2 linked regions of the Homo sapiens genome follow. The protein of the gene in region 1 purifies or fractionates together with the protein of each later gene. This does not show direct contact. Each region holds a gene or a part of one and is shown on either strand. Other genes may lie near its edges.

Evidence for each region.
Region 2: the proteins of SGF29 (region 1) and TADA2B purify together in Homo sapiens (affinity purification with mass spectrometry; 8 studies listed by BioGRID and IntAct, with this or other methods). This does not show direct contact.

Annotation. Positions count from the first base shown.
Region 1 is NC_000016.10:28,551,700-28,555,642, forward strand, and holds the start of SGF29 (SAGA-associated factor 29), read left to right. Parts: upstream 1-2,220; 5' UTR 2,221-2,398; intron 2,399-3,943. UniProt on the Homo sapiens protein: Chromatin reader component of some histone acetyltransferase (HAT) SAGA-type complexes like the TFTC-HAT, ATAC or STAGA complexes.
Region 2 is NC_000004.12:7,046,372-7,049,971, forward strand, and holds part of TADA2B (transcriptional adapter 2-beta), read left to right. Parts: intron 1-3,600. UniProt on the Homo sapiens protein: Coactivates PAX5-dependent transcription together with either SMARCA4 or GCN5L2.

The DNA.
Region 1 (3,943 bases):
GGAAGATGTCCCTACTTTGGCCTAGGGTGGATGTGGTGGAGGTGAAAAGTAGGTGGATTGTGTTATATGAATGAATATGTGTAAAGGATTTTGAACAGTGCCCGGTGCATAGCAAGTGCCTAACAAATGTGTTTTTATATTGCAGACACGTGGTGGATTGAATGAGGGAGGGGAGGGAAAGGGTGATGTCAGGGATAACCCCCAGGTGCTGGCTCAGGACATTGTACTAAGTAGGAGGTGGGACATGAAAACTGAGTATAGATGATTCTTTTGAGAAATGTGGATGTGGAGAAGACAGAGCAATTCCTTACATGTGGACAACACTCTAAAACACTTTTTAAAAAGTTAATAAATACATGTTTATTGTAGAAAAATCAGAAATTAACGATAAAATTTTAAAACAGGGCAGAGACCAAAATAATTTAAAAAACAACTGTAAGCTCTACATCTCTCCTGATCAGTGACTAGGGTTGATTTTTTAAATTTATTTTATTTATTTATTTTTTGAGACAGAGTCTTGCTCTGTTGCCCAGACTGGAGTGCAGTGGCGCAATCTTGGCTCACTGCAACCTCCGCCTCCTGGGTTCAAGTGGTTCTTTCCTGCTTCAGCCTCCAGAGTAGCTGGGACTACAGGTGCGTGCCACCATGCCCAGCTAATTTTTGTATTTTTAGTAGAGACATGGTTTCATCATATTGGCTAGGCTGGTCTCAAACTCCTGACCTCGTGATCTGCCCACCTCGGCCTCCCAAAGTGCTGGGATTACAGGCGTGAGTCACCACGCCTGGCCTAGCTAGGGCTGATATTTAACAATCAGGAAAAAGAGCCCCTGAGACCTTTACAAATGCAAAATTTGCAAAATCCCTCAAAGCATAACCTTCATAAAAGGCAGTAAGTAGAACTGCAGCTGGGTGGATGGGCATGTCATTCACTGACCTGACGCCCACAGAAAGAACTGCAAGTGTGATGGAAGAAAATGATGCATTAATTTTGGGGTTAACATAGTTTCAGTGCTAACGCCTGAGATTCTCTAATAAACAGAAAAATACTGACGGGGCTGAGGTTGGTGGCTCATGCCTGTAATCCCAGCACTTTGGGAGGCTGAGGCAGGAGGATCGCTTGAGCCCAGGAACTCAAGACCAGCCTATGCAACATAGCAAGACCCCCATCTCTACCAAAAAAAATTTAAAAATCAGCAGAATGTGCTGGTGTGTGCTTGTAGTCCTAGCTACTCAGGAGCCCTGATGGCACCACTGCACTCCAACCTGGACAACAGAGCGAGACCCTGTCTCAAAGAGAAAAAAAAAGAAACATGTGATGGCCAGGCACTGTGCTAGGTACTAGGAATACACAGGTGAACACAAGATGATCCCAATCTCATAGGACTTGCAAGTTTATCAAATAATCAACAAATAATTACAGACATTTGTAGGTTATGTAAGAAACTTTAAGATACCAGGATGGCTTTCGATAAAATACCATTGAGGCTACATGTCCATTGCACGTCCATATCCTTAGTACTTTCCTGAGAAGATTCCCTAGAAGTGCGATTTCTGGGTCTAAAGATCTGCTTGTTTTTTGTTTGTTTGTTTTTTTGAGATGGAGTTTCCCTCTTGTCACCCAGGCTGGAGTGCAATGGTACAATCTCCAGTCACTACAACCTCCGCCTCCTGAATTCAAGCGATTCTCCAGCCTCAGCCTCCCCAGTACCTGGGATTACAGGCACCCGCCACCACGCCCGGCTGATTTTTGTATTTTTTAGTAGAGACGGGGTTTCACCATGTTGGCCGGGTTGGTTTCAAACTCCTGAACTCAGGTGATCCGCCCGCCTTAGCGTCCCAGTGTTGGGATTACAGGCGTGAGCCACCGCGCCCGGCCTGTTTTTAATTAATTTTTTAACAACAGACTTTTATTTTTTAGGGCATTTTTAGGTTCACAACAAAATTGAGCAGAAAGTACAGTTTTCATATTACCCCTGCGCCCACCCACCTCCAGCAAGCAGCAATCTGTTCGCTTTCAAGTTTTATTTATTTATTTATTTATTGCATTTTGTTTTAAATAGAGTCTGGGGAAATGGGAGAAAACGCTGAAAACGCACAAGCACTTTGGTTGGTTAAATTAGGGTTCCGCCAAGAGCCGGAGCGGTGTGCCAAGTGAAAACTACATTTCCCACGGGGCAGCGGGTCACGTCACAGAGGAACGACTACGCATGCGTGCAAGGTCCTCCGCGCGCGACTACGCTCATAAAAGGAAAAAAAAGCGTGTGCGGTTCTCGACGTGCCGCCAATCTTCGAACGCAGGTCTGTGATCATCCGCAGACTCCGAAAAAGGGTTCGAGGAACGCGCCTGCTCCCCTCGTCGCAGTTTCCAGCCCGACGAGCTTGTTTTGTCCCGGACTCGGTAGGTGGCGACGGGCCGTGGCCTGAGACCTCCGGCGAAACGCGGGAGCGAAGGGCTGAGTCCTCCCTCCGCGCCGCGGCTCCCGACCTCCCTGAGGCGGCGCTCTAGGGGCGGTGCGCACGCGCTCTGGGCGGGAGGGGGGCGGGGCTCGTGGGGGTGGGGGCGGGAGAGGAGGGCGGGGCCGGGGCTCGGGGAGGGCGGGCCCTGCGCCCGGCCGCTCGAGGTCTGCGCTTGCGTGCTTCCATCCCCGGCGAGGGTGGGAAACAGCGACACGCTGGGCTCGGCACGGACGCAGCTTCCAGGTGGGGTACTCGGACCCGGGTCACGAAGATGCGGACAGAGGATGGGCCCCGAACTCCAGCACTTATTTTATGATTTGCACAAAAATTTTGTATATATATATAGTTCTTAACAAGATACACTAACAGCTCGTCGTTTGCCCAGGAGGCTCAACCTCCCGCCTCGGCCTCCCAAAGTGTGGGGAGTATAGGCGTGAGCCCCCGCGCCCGGCCAAAAAATGCCCGTCTTAAGAACAACAAAACAGCCTCCTTCACCCTCGCTATCCTCCAGTTACCTCCTCCTCGGCTCCGGTTTGCAGCCAAAGGCCTTAGTCTACCCTCACTAATGCCTTTTCTCCTCCAAGTCTTGAACCCTTGAGCCTCTAGTCAGGCTTTGGTCTCCACCACTCCACTAAAAAGGCTTCTTGTCAAAGCCACCAGTGATCTCTAGGTGGCCAAATGCATTGTTAAGTTAGGTCTCAGTCCTGTTCAGCATTTGATGCTGTGGATCACTGCCCCTCCTTGAAACACTGTTTTCATTTGGCTTGCTGAACGTTCTCTTCCTTTGCCTCTGCTCTCTCTGGCTTCTCCTCTGCTGATTCTAACCTAGGCATCATCTCACATTTTTGTTTTTATTAGAGACACGTTCTCTGTTGCTCAGACTGGAGAACAGTGGTGTTATTACAGCTCACTGCAGCCTCAAACTCTTGGGCTTAAGCAGTCCTCCTAACCAAAGCCTCCCCAAATGCTGGAATTACAGGCATGAGCCACCGCAATCCCAGTTTCACATTTTAAATGTAAATACTGGCCAGGCGCGGTGGCTCATGCGTGTAATCCTAGCACTTTGGGAGGCCGAGGTGGGCAGACTGCCTGAGCTCAGGGGTTTGAGACCAGCCCGAGCAACGTGGTGAAATCCAGTCTCTTCTAAAAAAAAAAAAAAAAATTAAAAAATTAGCCGGGCGTGGTGGTGCACGCCTGTAATCCCAGCTACTTGGGAGGCTGAGGCACAATAATCACTTAAACCCAGGAGGTGGATGCTGCAGTGAGCCAAGATCGTGCCACTGCACTCTAGCCTGGGTGACAGAGCAAGACCCTGTCTCAAAAAAGAGTTCTAGAGGTGGAAGAAAATCCACATATAAGTGGACCTGCACAATTAAAACCTGCATTGTTTGAGGGTCAACTGTATAGCTATTTTAAAAGAGATTTATTGTGATGGATTGGGTGACACTATTATAGAGGCTGAGAAGTCCCGAGATTTGCCATCTGC
Region 2 (3,600 bases), on another chromosome or scaffold:
GCCAGGCTCTTCCCATATGTGTCCTGTGGGATCTTCCTAGCAACCCTCGGGGGTGGGTTCTTATTCTTACAGTTGAAGAACAGCAGCTGTAAGAAACTAAGCGCCTTGTCAGGGATTCCATGGCATTCATGTGATAGAGCCAGGAATGAACGCAGGCCTATGTGATTCCAAAGCCTGGGCCCTAACCCATTCTGGGTGAGAGCATTAAGCAATGTGGGTCAGAGGCTGGGAGGCCATCGGTGCCACCGCAGGAGTGGCAGAAGGGCTTGACCTGATTCACTGGAGATTAGTGTGGAGGCAGGGCCTGGACTCATGGGCTGTGACTGTGAGTGTGGAAGGAGATGGTGTGGGGGCTGGCGACAGTGATGTGACGAAAGATGAGACCTGTTGAGTTCTACTTTCAGATGGCAAATGGTGACACCTGGCCTGGGGGTTGTACAACTACATGTGGGATTCATGGGAGAGGGTGGATTGTGGCCAAATCTGGCAGCTTTGTGGTCACATTTTGTACCAGGGCTGGGGGATGGGGCCTGAAGGGGACGGGATGTAGCTGAGCAGGGTTAACAGTGACACCTGGGGGCTTAGGGACAACCCGTGTGCTGGTGTGTATGTTTGATAGCGAGGGGCAGAGAGAACAGGTTAAAGGACCTTGGCTACAGTGGGTAAGAGTTGGCAAGCAGTGGCCTAGAGTCAGATTAGCGGGGTCTGGCGTCTCTAGAAGGCCGGTTTGTGATGGGTTCTGCGCAGGATTCCAAGAGTTAGAGGATGCAGGCCCTGCTGGAGCACAGGAACACAGACGCAAACACAGGTGACAGCTGAGGGCAAGTCGCAGTGGTGGCAGAGGAGCCGGAGCTGTTGATTGGTTGCCAAAGAAATTGGGCTGACACTGAGGAGCTTTAGGAGGGCCAGTGCTCCTCTGCAGGTGGTGGTCAGGAGGGCTTTGGCGGGGAAGTGGGGTTCAAGCTGGCCCTTGTGGTTTTGAATCAAATGAGCATGTGAAGTTCTCTGTGAACCATGGAAGGCCTTGTGCACACACGTCAACACTCAGGCTCCTTCTTGGAGCCAGGTGGGGTGTCCTGAGTAGAGCTGCACCCTTTGAGATGATGGTGGACACCCAGGAGGTGGCAGAAGGCCAGACACATCGATGGTCACTGCCTTGTGCGTGCATTCATTCTCTCGCTCATTCATTCAGTTAGCACAGCCTCGGGGCCTGGTGTGCGCCAGCCCCTGTGGTGAGAACAGGCTAGGAGGAAGACAGCTGCCTCACCTGGCAGGTGCCGTGTGGGCAAGTGGGCCTCAGGATGTCCTGCGGAGGGAAGGACACAAGATGGCTGTGCAGGTAGAGGAGAGTGTGGAGGAAGGAAGGGTTTTGTGTTTTAAGAGTCTGGTGTATTCAGGGCCAGGCAAAAGCCAGCTTGGGGTGAGGGAGGAAGCTGGTGAAAAGCCCTGGGTGCTGGGTACAAGAGTGTTGCTGGCTCAGGCTCTGTGATCACGCAGTGTCTGCTCGCCAGTGCCAGGCCCTGAGCAGGTGCTTTGACACGCGCCCCTCTCACCATCTCCCCGTCCCCTAATCCCTGAGACAGGTGCTCCCCACTTTTACAAACGAGGAAACAACTGTGGGTGATGTGGGAACGTGGAATTTCAACCCAAGGCTTCTGACTCCATGCCTAGAACCATCCGTTTCATTGTTCACCAGCCATGCCGCAGGATCCCCTAGAATTCCCAGGGATCCCCTGAGATCTGCTGGATTGTCACCTCTGAGGCCGAGGTCTGGAAATTTGGATGGATGGAAAGAACCCCAGGGAGCTGTGAGGCATGGTTGGGAACCATGGGAAGTGGGGACTTACCTTCCCCGCCGGGGCAGGAGCCTCCACTGTGCGGGCTTCCAGGGATGACCATTAAGGATGGCGGGAGGGGGAGGGAGAGCCCGGATGGGAGAGTGGCTGGGAGGGGCAGGGCACGCAGAGGTGGTCTCCAACTCCAGCCCACAGTGGGACACCCAGGATGCCTGGTTTACCTGAGTCACCCCCACCTCCCAAGCTGCTGAGTCAGGGGTGGGGCTTAGAATCTGCATTTCTAACAACCTCCTAGGTGCTGCTGATGCGGCCGCCGTGGGACCCCACTTTAAGAACCACTGGGGTAGAGTGGTAAGACATGTCACTTTATAAAACTTCAAAATTATTTAAAAATATATTGATTTTTATTGTGGTACAATACGTGTAACATAAAATTTACCATTTTAACCGTTTTTAAGTGTCTGGAAGCATTAAGTCCACTCCCAGTGTTGTACAGCCATCACCACCAGCCACCTCCAGAATTTTGTCATCTTGGCAGACTGAAACTCTGTCCCCATTCAACACTCACTCCCCCTCCCCCTTCCCCAGTCCCTGGCACCCCCATTCTACTTCCCGTCTGGCGCTAGGGACCTCAAATGCGTGGGTCCTGCAGGATTTGTCCTTTTCTGACTGGCGTATTTCACTTTGCCTCATGTCGTCAGGGATCATCCGTGTTGTGGCATGCGTCAGCACGGCCTTCCTTTCATGGCTGAACAATCCCTTGTCATCTGTGTGGCATAATGTGTTTATCTACATAGCTGTGACGGACATTCGGTTGCCTCCACCTCTTGGCGAATGTGAACAAGGCCGCTATGAAGATGGTGTTGAGGGATCTCGTCAAGTAAATAAAAGTGGAATTGCTAGGTTAGGTTCTGTGTGTAATTTTTTTTTTTTAAGGGTTTCGCTCTATCGCCCAGGCTGGAGTGCAGTGGCACAATCATGGCTCACTGCAGCCTCCACCTCCTGGGCTCAAGCGATCCTCCTACCTCAGCCTCTCAAGTAGCTGGGACTACAGGCATGTACCACCACACCCGCCTAATTTTTAAATTATTTGTAGAGACGGGGTCTTGCCATGTTGTTCAGGCTGGTCATGAACTTCTGGGCTCAAGTGATCCTCCCGCCTCAGCCCCCGAAAGTGCTGGGGTTAGGCTAAGCCTGGCCTTGTGTGTGATTTTGAGGAACCGCCCTGCTGTTTTCCACAGTGAGGAATGCCACTTTCAAAATCTCTGTCACAGTTAGCCTTATCTGACCTGAAGGTGTCAGTCACCTTGAGGGCCAATGACAACTCTAAGTCACTGAGGTCTCTGAGTTGAGAGAGACCTAGAACTGAGGCTTGCAGGGCTGCCCACTGGAACAGGCTGGGGGCAGTGGCCAGGGACAGTGGGGTCTCCGAAAGGTCTGACACCTGGAAGCAGTGGCTGCAAAGCCAGTAAGTCCCCAGCCTCTGGCATCAGAGGGATGCTTGTGCTGAGAGTTGAGCTGTTAGAGCAGGGAGGAGGGAAGGGGAAGATACAGGGGGTGACCCGGTGTCCTCAAGTTGTCTCTTTAAAGGTGACAGACAAGGCTGAAAGAGGGAAGAGCCAGGGGCCACCGCATGGCCGTGACTGAGTTGGTGTGCCAGCCCCGAGGGCTGTTGGCATCCCACGCCTACCTTTGCCCGGCCGCTCTGTCCTGCCGCTAGCTGCAGGTGGCCCTAGTTGTTGGCCCAGTGTCTGAGGCTGAGCTGAGACTGGAGGTGCTGAAGTGACTTTGCTGTGGAATGTGA